Regions from separate parts of the Homo sapiens genome. Here region 2 is linked to region 1. A link means that fine-mapping ties the variant in region 1 to the expression of a gene that starts in the linked region. Tissue or cell type: esophagus muscle. Region 1 holds a variant in brackets; the other region holds the start of a gene. All regions are shown on one strand. Distances are between the middles of the regions.

The links. PIP is the estimated chance that this variant, and not a neighbour inherited with it, causes the effect.
Region 2: STX3 starts here. The variant in region 1 is fine-mapped to the expression of STX3 in esophagus muscle (GTEx, PIP above 0.99).

The regions. Positions count from the first base shown.
Region 1 is chr11:59,714,142-59,722,247 of GRCh38, forward strand. No RefSeq gene overlaps it. Among named protein-coding and RNA genes, the nearest start is that of OR10V1, 4.4 kb to the left of the region's middle. The variant G/A (reference allele first, on the strand shown) is at 3,224.
Region 2 is chr11:59,751,463-59,759,568 of GRCh38, forward strand. It overlaps STX3 (syntaxin 3), which reads left to right and starts at 3,914. Exons shown (of 11, transcript NM_004177.5): 1 at 3,914-4,173. The coding sequence starts at 4,144. RefSeq lists enhancers at 2,344-2,844, 2,534-2,828, 2,594-2,888, 2,825-2,984 and a silencer at 3,855-4,114.

The DNA.
Region 1 (8,106 bases):
CACAGGCTGGAGTGCAGTGGTGCAATCTTGGATCACTGCAACCTCTGCCTCCTGGATTCAAGTGATTCTCATGCCTCAGCCTCCTGAGTAGCTGGGATTACAGGTGCCCGCCACCATGCCTGGCTAATTTTTGAATTTTTAGTAAAGATGGGGTTTCACTGTGTTGACCAGGCTGGTTTCGAACTCCTGACCTCAGGTGATCCGCCAGCCTCTGCTTCCCAAAGTGCTGGGATTACAGGTGTAAGCCATCACGCCTGGCCTGGTGATCTTTATTTTAATTCCAGTGCCTAGCACAGTGCCTACTGTATAGGGTTGCCAAGAAGCATTTGCTGAACAAATTAATGAATAAAGCAAATTTAAAGTTCAAAGTTACAAAATGGGTAAAATAGGGTATTGATTAATTATATAAGACAATAAATAAAAAATTTTAGGATTGTATAGGCAGATGTATGCCATAATTTAAAGAGAATTGTGTTGCTGGCATATTATGAAATTGAATCATAAACTCTGTAATATATCTCAAAACCTAGAGACTTTGATTTACATTTTTCCTTTATCCTATATGTCCCTACACACTGATAGTTCATCTTTCAAAGAGTCTCTCCTATCTGTTGCTTTGGTCCTTTCCCATTTCCTTAATCAGCTTTCTCCATTGTTATCTTCCATGAGGATTCCTGTGATAGCTATCTATTCTCCCATCTCCCTTCTCCTCCCTCTGTAATCCATCCTGCTCTCTATTATCATGTTGCTTATATGCTTAGAAATTTTCAGTGCCTTCCTATTGCTTAAATGTTGACCTTCACAGTCTTCTGCCAATTATTCCAGTCTCTCTTGGAGCTGACTTTTTTAGACTAATCCTGCTATGGCGCTTAAATATCCCTGTTACAGACCACATGGTCTACTCATTGGCCTCTTATTCATATTCTCCCTGCTGCTTCATATACTTCCATTCTCCTTCCAACTAGAAATACTTTCTCCTCTCTTTTGCTTAATCCAAATCATACCCAATTTTCAAATTCTAGGATATGTTGTTCTTTTATGAAATCTCCCTAGGTCACTCTCTTTCCTTTCTCTGACGTTTTACGTTGCTCAGTATTATGAGTTTAGTGCTACCAAACTGTATTTTACTGTATCTATATGTCCTGACCCAATTACATTTTATGTTCCCCAAGGATGGGGGCTGGACCTCTGTCTTATGAAAAATTATCATTTCTTTCATAATAAGCGCAAGGCATGGTGAAAAGTGCTCTATTATGCATTTGCCCACTTAATCTATAAAACCATGTTAGTAGGGGTGTACTATCATCATCCCTTTTTAACAGATGAAGACACATAGGCTTAAAGAAATTTTAACATTTTCTGAATTCACATAGCTAGAAAATGGAAAAGTCACGGTTTGAACAGTTTGTTTGATTATAGAGCTTGTTTGCTTAACCTTAGTTTATACCCTACTTTCTCCCTCCATACTTTTTATCTCCTAAGTAGCTTTGCTATTAATTGATTACAATTCAGAACTCTAGATGGTCTATTGGAAAAAGAGTACCTAAGATCTAGGACTGAAAATGTTGGATTATAGTATTTCCACACTTGAGAGACATAATTACAATAATAATTACAATACATGATTACTATGGCTATCTAGTAAATGCTGCTCCGGGCAATGCAGCAAAAAGAACTTCCCTTTTTTCTCTTCTAAGGAGCAGAGGAAAAATATTTGGCTAAAAACTGTGATGTTTTGGGTGGAGATAGAGGGAGGGTGGTTTGATTCATTTCTTCACAAGAGAGGGAATGGAGACAAAGAGAGGGTAGAATCCTCTGTGACCCATGATCTGAAGTCCTGTGTGCTGTCCTAAGAGTTTTCATAGGTGCCTGCCTGCAGTTTTAAGCGACTGTCTTCTGGGGGCTAAGAGTCTAGTCCCCAGACCAGGACAGTACCTATGTAGGGCTGAACCAAACCTATACAGTCAAAACAAAATGAATTACTCAATTCATTAGGACACTAGAAATAAAAAGTTCCAGAGGTGCCTTCTGTTCTTGTTCTTCTTAATCTCCTTAGACTCAGGAAGTCCATCCTATCTACTGGGCATAAATCAACCTAATCTCCTCAAAGCACTTGTGTCTCAATGCAGCGCAGGGTCTGCGTTGGCATTATTGTATCATGAGGTTTAGAAAAGAGAAGGGAAAATCGAATCTGGAGAAATACTGTGAAATCCAGAATGCTGTATAAGAAATTTAAGCACTAAAATATCCATTATAATATTGGTCTAGCCAATCTCTTAATTTCATTTCTTTTCTTTTCTTTTTTCTTTTTTTTTTTCTTTTTCATTCCCTTTCCTTTCCTTTCTTTCTTTCCTTCTTTTTTTTTTTTTGGAGTCTCACTCTGTCACCCAGGCTGGATTGCAGAGGCACAATCTCTGCTCACTGCAACCTCTGCCTCCTAGGCTCAAGCGGTTCTCCTGCCTCAGCCTCCCAAGTAGCTGGGATTACAGGTGTTCGCCACCACACCCAGCTAATTTGTGTATTTTTAGTAGAGATGGGGTTTCACCATGTTGACCAGGCTGGTCTTGAACTCCTGACCTCAAGTGATCCACCCGCCTCGGCCTCCCAAAGTGCTGGGATTACAGGCGTGAGCCACTGCGCTCAGCCCTTAATTTCTTTATTAAAAAGTTTTCTACTCATCATATTATGGCCTTCCCTTCTACCCTACCCCAGGTAGTTTTTAAGAACCTCCTCTCCATTAAAAAAAAAAAAAAAAAGCATCTTGTTTTCTTGGTCTATGGTAAAATTTATTGGAAAAACAAGAGATGCTTGTTATTGTTGCTGTTGCCATTGTGAGAAGGTATAGATGTAAGTTAGGCTCTATTTAGAAGTGATATCAACCTTAGAATAATATGAAGTGCATTTTTTTTTTATTGCAAAGAAGACAACTAGACACAACTTTCAAAAGATGGCCCAGCATGCTCACTATTCATCCATGTGATGCTAAAATATTGAATTAAATGTTGGGCATCATGGAAACAAATAGCTGCATGCTTTGCTGACTTCATTCTTTACATAAATCTGGACAGGTGGTAGCAGCTATTTGGATCCATGCTTGCTTTTTAAACTAGACTGTGGACATTCTAGTATCTAGAGGGTACAAAGCTGTGTTTTGAGAGAAAGCGAAGTTCCAGGATCAATATGGCAGTTTTTTTAAAAGGTCTATTTTAACTTGAAAAATTTC[G/A]GAGAATGATTTCATATCAAAACAAACATGGAGATAATATAGGGTAGTGGGAAGATTTGCATGAATTTAGGGGAGTAAAAACATAAGATTTTGAAGAAATTTCTTTCCTGTGGCTGATCACAAAGTTCTTAAAAAAGTAAATTGTCTCTCATGCTAATTAGAGTACTTAGGTTAAAAAGCCTTAGATGTTAATTTAGACCATAGATTGGCTATTACTCAATTGAAAATACAATTTCCCAAAGTCCCCAAGTCTCAAATCTTGACTTGGAATAGCTCCTCTCTTATTACGGCAAAGAAAACAACTGAAGTACTAGCCAACTTCTTCTAAACAGGTAAGGCCCAGAGAAAAACTCTCAGAAGACAGCTAGTCTTCGGAAAAATAGCTTATCGTCTTACCATCATGCAGCTAAGAACATGGCTCCACAAGTTCTTTGTCCTTCATGTAATCCCTATACAAGTTGACTAGTGGCCCTGGAAGGTCACAGATGCTCACAGAGTCAGAGCTCTGCCAGGTCACCTGGGTCCATCTTTTCCAAAGAGACTGCTTGACTTGTCCGAGATTGCACAAGGGGGTCAATTTTTAATTCATCATTTAAATGTACAAAGTACTCTAGGGGACCCAAAGATAAATGAAATGCCATCTACTTTATGGAGTCAGGGGTCAAGACTGTCAGCCAGATTTTTGCTTATTCTGGCTTGGTTTGCAACACCTTTGTGCCTCTGCCACTCCTTGTCAGTTTCTCTCAATTTAGATGTGCAGATGATATTTAATCACAGGGAGAAAATGTAGGTTGCTGGGAACTTCAGTTTGAGTGGCTGTTTAATTAAGTCTATATAATTGCCTCTGGTCATACAACCAAATTTTAGGGGAATGAATATATTTTAAAAAGCATATAATTTGGGGGAAATGATGTCTCCGGGAAAGTAGGCTATGTTGAAATTAAATGATGTGTATTCAAATTTCAGCTTTGTCACTTATTAGTTTTGTGATCTTGCTAGGTCACTTGCTCTCTCTAAGATCCCATTTGCTCAGAATAGCACCTCACTACTTTACAGTGTTGTTGTGAGGTGCACGTCCATGAAACGATGTCCGTGAAAGAACCTAGTAGAATGCCTGCATGTATTACCTGCTCAATGAAGTATACAGATTATTTGATTCCTTTATTCATTATCTATCCTAAGATTGAAAAAAAATGTTGAGTGGGTAGAATACCTGGCAGGTCTATCTAATATTTTCTGGAAGAGATTTCATATTACATCTCGCTCAACTCCTAGTCTCCTATGTTACCTTATTCTTCAGAATCTCTCTTTTAGTAGGGTGAAGAATGACAACCCTTTAATCTACTTATAAACTAGTTATTGTTAAAAGGTACTTTATATAAATAAGGAAACACAAAAGAAAGAAAGAAAGACAAAGAAAGAAAGAAAGAAAGAAAAGATAGTTTATAAAAATGTATTGACTTTAGGTATATCTTTATGGCTGAATTGACCTACATGATATAGCTATTAGCACAAATTTGGACTCAACTGAGAGGAAAATAAAATCTTAACTTGGAGATTTTGATTGTGGGATGAGCAGAGAAGGAAGAACAAAGTTATAACCATAATTCACAGGGCAAAAGCCCAGCTCGGAACATAGGTATTTGTGGCTTCTAAAGATACTTATATGGCTGTAGCAGAGTCAGGGAAGATATATTGGTACCTATTCAAATAAAATGTTCCAACATCAGATGTACTGAAACAAAAGACATATTTTGTCCTTGGAAGACACTCTTTTTTTTTTTTTTTTTTTTTTTGAGACAAGTTCTCTCTCTGTCACTCAAGCTGGAATGCAGTGGTGCAAATATGGCTCACTGCAGCCTCTACCTCCTAGGCTTAAGCAGTTCTCCTGCCTCAGCCTCCCAAGTACGTGGGACCACAGGTGCATGCCACCATGCTTGGCTAATTTTTAAAATTTTTCTAGAGATAGGGGCCTTGCCATGTGGTCCAGGCTGGTCTCAAACTCCTGGACTCAGGCAATCCTCCTGTCTCGGCCTCCCAAAGTACTTGGATTACAGGCGCGAGCCACTGTGCCCAGCCAGAAGACATCCTTGAATAACATTTTCTATATGTCTGATGATATTCTCATGAGTACTTTCTGGAAGAAATTCATATAAGCATTTTTTTGGCAGCAGCATCTCGAAAGAAAGAGAGCCAAAATAGTTTAATATGTTGGATCAAATGAAATTTGTTTTTGAAGGTCAGCAATGGTCGCATATGATTTGGGGGAAAAGAAAGAGAGAAAACACCAATGGCAGCATATAGGCAATTTTACATGGTCCAATGTGATACTTTTGTAAGGGAACTGGGAGTATATTGTATGAAACATCCAGACATTCAACAAAGGCTATTGTACTCCTACTGCAATAATAATGGCTAACATTTATTGGGTGCTGTGCACTGCGAAAGCAGGCTCAGTACTCCAGGATCTGTGCACTGTGCTAATTATTTTACAGGCATCAGTTCCTTTAAAGTGGACCTTCAGATATATTGGTACCTATTCAAATAAAATGTTCCAACATCAGATGTACTCAAACAAAAGACATATTTTGTCCTTAGAAGACACTCTTTTTTTTTTGAGACAAGTTCTCAAAAAAAGATACCTATTCCTGTGAAATAGGTATCTTTATTGTTTACATTTTTTTTCAGATGCAGAAATTGAGGCTTAAGGGTTTAATTAACTTGCCCAGCTAGTAAATGGCAGAGTAGGACTTAATTCCTAGGTCGATCTGAAAGCAGGTCTGTTTCTATCATTAAAACAAACTGTACATCACTGAGCAATGCAGTATGTGCAAGGCTGAATGATAGGTGCCTTAGAGGGACAAAATTATTTAATTCTAATTGTCCATTTTCAACAAACTCTATTGCTGTAAAGTGATGTGCCACAGGCATTCCTCAGATCATTGCAGAGGCAGTGCTCAGCACTTTAATTTATAGTCTCTTTCTTTCCTTTTTGCTCCTGATTTTCTTCCTCTTTCACTACCTACTCATTTAATCAACAATATTGTTTTAAAGAAATCCCTTTTACAAACATTATTAAGGCCCTGCTCTATATAAGGCATAGCTCTGTTTTCTGGGAAAAGAGAAAGAAGTGTATAAAATGAGTGAAGATGTTAATGCTCAAAATTGAATGAAAGAGATAGTAATAAAAATAACGCAAGTCAGGCCAGGTATGATGGCTCATACCTGTAATCTCAGCATTTTGGGAGGCTGAGATTACATGAGGCCAGGAGTTTGAGACTTGCCTGGGCAACATAGTGAGACCTCATCTCTACATAAAATTAAAAAAATCAGCCAGGTGTGATGGCATGTGCCTGTGGTCCCAACTACTCTGGAGGTTGAGGCAGGAGGATCTCTTGAACCCAGAAGATCTGCAGTGAGCTGTGTTTGTGTCACTGAACTGCAGCCTGGATGACAGAGCAAGACCTTGTCTCCAAAAAACAAAACATAGGGCTGGGCGCAGTGACTCACACCTGTAATCCCAGCACTTTGGGAGGCTGAGGCAGGCAGATCACCTGAGGTCAGGAGTTGGAGACCAGTCTGGCCAACATGGTAAAACCCCGTCTCTACTAAAAATACAAAAAAATTAGCCAGGAATGGTGGTGCACACCTGTAATCCTAGCTACGTGGGAGGCTGAGGCAGAATTCTTGAACCTAGGAGTTGGAGGTTGCAGTGAGCTGAGACTGTGCCACTGCACTTCAGCCTGAGTGACAGAGTGAGACTCCTTCTCAAAAAAGAAAAGAAAAGAAAAGAAAAGATATACGTATACATGTGTGTACGTGTGTGTGTATATATAATACAAATATAATACAAGTCAAATTCAGGGAACTGCTGTCATAAAATGACAACATGCTAGGGGAACACAGACATCTCTCTTTTTGCAATAATGCCATTTGAAGAATGGCATGTAATTACAATTACTTTTTAATGCATAAGGGGCCTCCTATGTGAAGGAAACTACTAGTAATTCCTTTTATAACAGAAGTATTTTCTACATTTTCAACATCTTTAAATTTGAAATTGAAATGATGGATATTTTTTAAAAAGTGGAAAACTCCTTGACCGTACATACATCTCTGCATTTCAGGAATGGTTAGTGTTGAGCTCATTTAATCTGGTCTAGAGTATGATCCCTTGATCATTGTGAACAGATCTTTCTCTTTGCCTTTCATCAGTTTGAGGAGCATGGATTTCACAGTATGTATTCTTGAATTTCCCATAAGTCATCTGTATAAAATACCAGTTCTCAGTAGGAACTAGACTTTGACTCTTTCTGTGTAAAGCTCCACGCTTAGCTTTTGTTCCTAGCTTAGTAATTGACAAGCAATTTTTCTTTTTTTTTTTTGTTTTGAGGTGGAGTCTCGCTCTCTCACCCAGGCTGGAGTGCAATGGCACGATCTTGGCTCACTGCAACCTCCGCCTCCCAGGTTCAAGTGATTCTCCTGCCCCAGCCTCCTGAGTAGCTGGGACTATAGGCGTGCACCACCACACCTGGCTAGTTTTTGTATTTTTAGTAGAGACGGGGTTTCACCATGTTGGCCAGGCTAGTCTTGAACTCCTGACCTCATGATCCACCCGCCTTGACCTTCCAAAGTGCTGGGATTACAGGCGTGAGCCACCATGCCTGGCCGACAAGCGATTTTTCTAACATTCTAAAATCTGGAGTCTGGGGGAGGGGATTCTGAGCATTTGCTGAGCTCAAGTGGACTACAACCCATTGCAGATTTACTGGGATCCTTTGCTAAACACTGAGGACCCCAAGGGCCTGCCTCAAGGTCTTACCTGTCCTCAGAGGATCCCTGGGCTGGCATGCTGACCACTGCTAGATCACATATCTCACTGA
Region 2 (8,106 bases), 37 kb after region 1:
GTGCTGGGATTACAGGTGTGAGCCACCACGCCCGGCTGAGATGGGTATTATTATTATCTTTGCTTACGGATAAGGACATTGAGGCACAGGGGCATTAAATCAATTGCCAAAGGTCACACAACCATTAGTGGTAGAACTGAGATTTGACCTGGGTAGTTTGGCTCCACAGCCTGGGCAGGCAACCACTGCCTTTTGCAGCATGTCTATCAGCATGCTATGTGAGCTTGGGAAAATCATCTTATTTCTCTGTACTTAATTTAATTTATAATAAAATGGGGATAATAATATGTACCCTAACTCCCTCCCTGAGTGATTGTGAGATATCAGGACAAAACAAAGTTATAAAAGTGCAGTAAAATTCAGTATGGCTATTCAAACATTCAAACGAGGAAATACATTAGATGGCTTATTTCTTTAATTACAAGGAGTTTAAAGCCACAATTATCCAATTGCCCTTTATCTGTGCTTCATTATAAATATCCTGTTCCTCTTTTTAAAGGAATAGATATACTTTTAATTTTTTTTTTTTTTGAGACATGTCTCTCTCTGTCACCCAGCCTGGAGTGCAGTGCCGTGATCATAGTTCACTGCAGCCTCAAAATTCTGGGCTCAAGCAATCCTGCACCGCAGCCTACTGAGTAGCTGGGGACTGCATGTGAGCACCACTATACCTGGCTAATTTTTTTTTTTTTTTTGAGACGGAGTCTCGCTCTGTCACCAGGCTGGAGTGCAGTGGCGCAATCTCGCCTCATTGCAACCTCTGCCTCCCGGGTTCAAGCAATTCTCACTGCAGCCTCCACCCCCTGGGTTCAAGCAATTCTCCTGCCTCAGCCTCCCAAGTAGCTGGGATTACAAGCACACACCACCACGCCCAGCTAATTTTTGTATTTTTAGTAGAGACGGGATTTCACCATGTTGGCCAGGATGGTCTCGATCTCCTGACCTCATGATCCACCTGCCTCAGCCTCCCAAAGTGCTAGGACTACAGGCGTGAGTCACTGCACCTGGCTCGATTTATGTATGTTTTGTAGAAATGGGGTGTCACTCTGTTGCCCAAGCTGACAAAGAATTCTTATTATTATTATACTTTAAGTTTTAGCGTACATGTACATAACGTGCAGGTTTGTTACATATGTATACATGTGCCATGTTGGTGTGCTGCACCCATTAACTCGTCACTTAGCATTAGGTATATCTCCTAATGCTATCCCTCCCCGTTCCCCCACCCCACAACAGTCCCCGACAAAGAAATTTTAACACAGTTGAAACTGTACAACTATGGAAGGTGCCACCTTGGGAATGTCTGGAAAAACTAAAAAAGTTAAAATGGCAAAAACTCCAAAAATTATTGGGTGTCCTGTGGCATGCTAGGCCTTATCTAAAGCACCTTTCTGGATTACCTGATTTTTTAGTGATTTTTGCCTTATAAAATCTTGCAGCTATTTTCCAACTTGGTAAGTTGTAGAAAATTCATAGGAATGCCAATGATTCTTGTCCATAGAGATGCCTGGTAGAAGTGCAATTGCTCTCCCAGCACCCCGAGGCCAGTTCTGCATTTATTATTTATTTTTATTAAAAATATAATTTTTAAGACAGAGTTTTGCTCTGTGGTCCAGGCTGGAGTGCAGTGGTGTGATCTCAGTTCACTGCAACCTCTGCTTCCCAGGTTCCAGAGATTCTTCTGCCGCAGCCTCCCGAGTAGCTGGGATTTGTAGGCGTGCACTATCACGCCCGGCTAATTTTTTGTATTTTTAGTAGAGATGAGGTTTCAAGATGTTGGCCAGGCTGGTCTTGAACTCCTAACTTCAAGTGATCTGCCCGCCTCAGCCTCCCACAGTGCTGGGATTACAGGCATGAGCCACTGCACCCGGCCAGTTGTGCATTTATTAACATGTTCGTTTCAGCATTCCTGATTGCCTATATATGTGTGTACACTTTGTGTTTTCCTCTGGACAGGGCTAGCTTTACTGGTCTCCTCATTCATTAATGAATTAAAGTCTTTGATGTGTGTGCATTTTATATTTGTAGAGGAGTCATGATTTTACTCTTTTCAAAACAATTATCCTGTAACAGGAACCCTCTGAGCAGAGGCAGACAGGCCACCCTTGATTCCTGCTGTGGAAAGAGAATTTTTTACTCCAGACCCCAATGGTCCTTTTCAGATTCCTAACGTGAAGGGTTGTTCATATCTCGGCCTCTCGCGGAAGACTCTATTTTCTTGAAGCGCGGGGAACTACGTATTCCCACTAACAAAAATCTGTTAAGGGGCAGGGCGCAGTGGCGCACGCCTGTAATCCCAGCCCTTCGAGAGGCCGAGGCGGGCGGATGGCTTGAATACAGGAGTTCCAGACCAGCCTGGGCAACATGGCGAAACCCTATCTCTACGAAAAAAACACAAAAATTAGCCGGGCGTAGTGGCGCACGCCTGTAATCCCAGCTACTTGGGAGGCTGAGATGGGAGGATGGGTTGGGCCCAGGGGATCGAGGCTGCAGAGAGCGGTGATCGCGCCACTGCACTCAACTTGCGCAACAGAATGAGACTCTGTCTAAAAAACAAACAAACAAACAAACAAACAAACAAACAACCCCCAAACTCCCCAAAAATGTGTTAGGGGAAGGAGGTGGGACAGTGTGTATTTCTGATCTACTCGCCTTTCCTAGTATGACCACCAGGGGGCGCGGAAGCCCTCCTGGTACTAAGGCGGGGACAACCTGCCCAGCGAGCACAGCGGGCAGAAGGAAGTGTGCCGGACGCGAGAGAGAACTACGGCCGAGACCCGCGGGGCCGGCTCAAAGCCCGACCTCTGCCATACGCACCGTATCTTTATGGGAGCCGATGAGGTCAGCAGGGAGCACGCGTTCAGATGGCAGAAGAGGGCAAAGTACTGCTAGAATTACAAAGATATTTACAGCTTTTTAACCTGAAAGCACAGAGCAGATCCTATTCTTCAGAATTAAATCTTCGGCTCGCCAGTCCCGTTTATGGATCTCCACTCTGATGAATGTGCCATTTGTTCCCAAGAAGACAAATAGGGTAGGGAGAAGAGGGAGAGGCGGGGAGAAGACTCGAGATAAAGGGACGATCTGCTTTTCGGAAGCAGAAGCCGCCTGGGAACCACCTGCACACCAAGCAGGCTGCGAGGACGGGGAGCGCTCCAGTGCAAAGTTCTGTATTTTAAAGCCCCTCCTCGCTCACAGGCTTCACAGCGAACTACGAAGTGGGTACCATCTCTGATTTACAGACACGGGAACGGGGTCCTCTTGAGAAACGATGCTTTCCCAAACGTCTGCAAATTGTGAGTGCCAAGTGTCTCCACTGGCACTAACAACATCGAGCTGCTTACGTTTCTCGGAGCGGTCCCGATTTCCAACAAGCAAAAGATCCAAATTCTCTGACCACCCTGACCGTCCTGTATCTCCAGATCTCCAGGTCTTTCCTCTGGACACCTCCTCCATCCCCCCACTTTCACTGCCAGCAGCCCTGAGGCTGCGCGGGATCCCGCTACTCGGAATGCCTTCCTCCTGGCGGGATATTTTTAGAACACTCGACTGCCACCCAATGTAGCCCACATCACATTGTCTTATTTGTTTTCGGGAGCTTGTCCCCGCCTAGCAAGGAGTCGGCTAAGAACTGGATCCTAGCGAGGAGCCCGGCACAGACAGCGAATGACCGCAGCCAGACAGTCGCTCTTGCTCTTCCTCGGCCCTGCGGCAGGATCCGCCGGTGCAGGGGCCTCTCCCCGGACTCCACGCGTGTCTGGAGGGCTCTCGGGTTAGGGAAGGGGGCTTTGGAGACGCCCCGGGCGGCCGGGCGGTGGCGGGACGCGGGCCCTTTAAGAAGGAGCGAGGGGCGCGGCCAGGTAGGGGCGGGTCCAGGGCGGATCAGCGCTGCGCCGGCGCCGGCCCGGGAGCCGGATTTGGAGCGCGAGGCGCCGGTGGGGGCGGAGGGGGCTGCGCGGCGGAGGCTCCCGTGGCCTCGGACGCTCCTCCTAGCTAGCGGCCGCCGCCCGCCGCCGCCTGCGCCTCCAGCTCCTTCGCCCCGGCGGGCCCGGCCGCCGCTTCCGGCAGCTCACCTGGGAAGCGCTCACCTGGGACGCGCTCACCTGGGACGCGCTACCTGCCTCCGGGCGCCTGGGCTTCAGGATGAAGGACCGTCTGGAGCAGCTGAAGGCCGTGAGTTTCGCCGCAGGCGGGGTGCTGCCAGGAGGGGTGCTGCATGGGAGAGGGGCTTCCCTTTGCTCCCCAAGTCGAGGCTGGAGGGGGGCCCGAGCCGGAGGCTTGCCCTCCCCAAGCCCCCACCGCTTCCCGCGCCGGTTCCGCACCCTCCCCTCCCCTCCCCTGCGGGGTCATGTGCCCGGTGATTCATCGCTAGGCAATGATTTTCCTGAACGCCTCTAACTCTCCCACCCCGCAAGCTGGACAGTGTCTGTCCAGAGCTGGTTCCCGAAGCGGGTGCTTGGGCCCGGGAGGTCAGGGGTCCCTTCACCACCTGCCCACTGCTGCCTGGCACTATGCCCAGGACCAGCCTCCTTCTCCCTTTCCTGTTTCTCTCCTGAGGTGCTACAGGCCTGGCTGCCCCTTCCCCCAGGGAGCAGCTCAGAGCTCTCTGGTGACCTCTGGAGCTGTGAGCCGGTCACATGCTGGGATGGGTCAGCTCCTCTCCAACCGGTGGTCTGTAATTGTTATCCCCGGGTGTCATTGTCCCCCCCTCCCCCGCCGTATCTTTTGGAACAGCTGTGGTTAGGTCAAAGGATCTGAAGGTAGACTACCTCCAGCCTTGGCTGCGCAAAAGCTGTAAAGCCTTAGGTTACTTACTGTGAGTCTCTGTTTCCTTATCTATCAAATGGGAATGATCATACCCTAGGAATTTGTTGGGAGGATCAGCTGATACAATGGAACTTGATACAGAAAAGGGTTAACGCATAGGGTTTTAAGCCAGATATTCATTGACTCATTCAGTACATAATTATTGAGTGTATTCTATGGGGAGGTCCAGTGCTAAGCCTTGGAGATTCAGTGGCACAGGTTCTACCTTAATAGAATTAAAATCTAGCCCTTGACACTCAAGAGTTTAGTCCATCTACTTTGGAGCTTGTTACAAGTGTAGCAGCTTAGGCCTGAGTCTAGCCCCGCAGAATCAGAATCTAATTATTCATCCATTTCCCCAGGTGATTCATGGGCACATTACAGTTTGGGAAGCACTGGACTGGATTAGAACTGGGGTTGTCTCCTGGCTCCACTGCTTACTGGTGATCCCTTAAAATCCCAGCCTAAGTTTTGTCATTTGTAAAATGGGTAGTTGTAAGGTCGAAATGCAACAGAAGATGCTTAAGAACACTTTTAGGGTGCATGGCACGGGGGACTTAATAAATGGTGAAATATGCTAATAACTGTGAGTGCTCTTGGGAAAATGCAGATGTCAGGGACTGCTGGGATGATGTTACAAGAGTTTATCCTTTTTCTCCCTTGCTTGGATGAGACCTTCATTCCTGTTTCACCTGTTCTGTGTAGCAGGGCTGCGGAGGAGGCAGGTAGCTGGGGAAGTGAGAGAAGCAAAGGGACAGTTGCCTATTGTGGGAGTGGCCTCTCTGCCTCAGGCTTGTGCTTAGTCATCTCAGCCTCACAGCGTCCAGGTTACTGATGGGGCAGAATTTATTGCCCCTGTTTTTATAGATGGGGAAACTGCTGCTCACGGGGTAGGAGGGATGCTCCAGGACACAGAGCCGGCCAGGGCACCACCAGGAGAGGAACCCAGGCTCTTGACACTCTCCACAGTGCTCCTTCCCTTGAAGCACGCTGGTTGGGGAGGCAGAAGGAAAAGAAGAGCACGATTTTGAAGATCTCTCTGTGTCGGCACACCCAGCAACCATAAAAAAGTACAAAACTGAACAGCAGGCTCTTCCATTTATTAGGAAATCCACTTCCAGAGGAAGATACTCCATGGCCCCTTTCAGTAGCTCATTGTCAACAATGAGCAAAGAGTCTTAACTGAGCTTTGAGTTCCAAGAATAAATTTAATTTGCCTGGGGACGCTGAGCAAGTCTCTTTGCCTCTCCTCGGTGCCTCATGGTTACCCTCTGTACAATGGAATTAATGATAGGTTTCCTCCCCTTCCCTCTTGGGGATGTGGTGAAAGTGAGACTGGAGATGGTGGTGGTATTATGGGAGGATTGTTCTGAAATCACAGGGTGGCTTCTGTAGCGTCTTGGAGCAGATGCATGGCAGCGTGGGACAAAGGGACACAGGTGGCAGGTTCCAAGACTGATCACTGTGCTTCTTTGCGTCACTTCTCTGCTTCTCAATTCCTCCTTTATACAACAAAGAATTGAGTTGATCTCAGAAGCCCCCTCTGGCGTTATTATAGGTTTTTCTTTGAAGACTGTTAAGGTTTATGTGGATTTTGGTGTCAGTTCACCTCCTCTTATCCCCTCTCCCCAGCCAGACTCCCAGGGATCACCCTCACTGAAACAAGATATGCGTCTTCTCCCTCTGATTTCCGTTATCAATTAGAAGCGTTTGTTAACCTGCATGAAACAAATTGCACATTGAGCAGCCTATGCAATCTCTTTCTGTGGTGTTCTTTCTAAATCCTGGGGAGGGGAGGTGGTAACTGCCTCCCGATAACTGGAGGGCTTTCCGTGCCTGTGATTGACTTTGTTCTGGGTAGATACAAAGAGAACATGTGGGGTTGATGGGTAGAAATGAGGAATCTGTAAGAAAGCGTTTTTAGTAGACAGAGCTGCCCAAGGATGGAGTAGATGGTGCACCCTCCAGCATGGGAAGGAAGCAAGAAGCTTGTTGGGATTTTGAATGTTGTAGGAATTTGAGCATCTCTTGGAGGGGAGGTGAACTAGGAGATATAAGGCCTTCACCAACCTTAAGAATGTGTGGTTTTATAAAATGCTTAATTGTGAGCCTGTCCTGAGGCTTTGAAGTCTACAGGGACTGAGGCCTCAAGAGTTGCCCCTGTAAAGTGGCTCATCACCCTTTTCCCATAGGATCATTGTGAGGATAAAATGAGATAATCCGTGACAATCACCCACCACTGTTATTGTTAGTTCCTCTGTCTTGGCCTGCTGGCAACAGCGTCCACACAGAAGGGCATCCCTTCCTGAGGCCATGGTCACAAGATCTGACTCACCTGGTCTCATCTCATCTCTTCTCTTGCACTGCTCTTCCTGGTGGGCTCCCTCGACAGCCTGCTTTTTCAGTGACACAGGACAGGCTTGCCAAGAATGTGCAGTGCCTCTACCCAGCCTATCCCAGGACATGGTTTTCTCTGACTTCTCAGCAGCTGAACTTTGAATCTGCTGAGTCCAGACAGTTCCATGCTTTTGCATGGCCCTGTTTTCATTCAGCAAACATTTGCTGAGTACTGAGTACCCACTGTGTGCCAGTCCTTGTACTAGATGCTGGAGTGTAATGGTGATAAACGCATGTTCCTGGCCCTTAGAAAGTTCATGGTCAGGTAGGAAGAAACAGAAGAAATAGACATGAGGATATCATCCTTGTGATAGAAGCAACCACAGGAAGACCCTGTTGGCCAGTCTTTGGAAGATGGGAGATGGGCATGAGGCTTTGGGTGGGTTCCCAAGAAGTAGTAATGCTTGAGCTCAGCTGATTCTTCCAGCCCAATCTGACCTTTTCAGATATGTAAAGGTGGTTGGAGATACATAAGTTACTTTACGTACCAGATAAGTAAAGAGACCTTGTATCTAATCCTCTCAACCCTGCAAAGCAGAGTGGGTTTTTCTATTATTCTCATTCTGCAAGTGAGTGAATTGAGGCTTAACAAGAAAGGCAAGGATCCTAGATTGTCTTAATCACTCTCGCATTGGTGTATAAACCATCAAGCATATAAACAACTCAAGGGAGCATCAGCAGGGTCGCATGTGCATGGTACCTGCTGACCACCATGATCAGAGCTTTGTGACCTCTGTGTGCCTAGCATCCTGCTGGGCGTCAAGTTTAGGCAGGATTGACAAAGTCCTAGTATCAAAGGGTAAATGATCACATAGGGAAGACAAAGACATGTAGTATATGACAAGAGGGCCAACAGTAATCAAAGCCATATGGTGGTAATGGAGAAGCCAGTGATGTATGGAA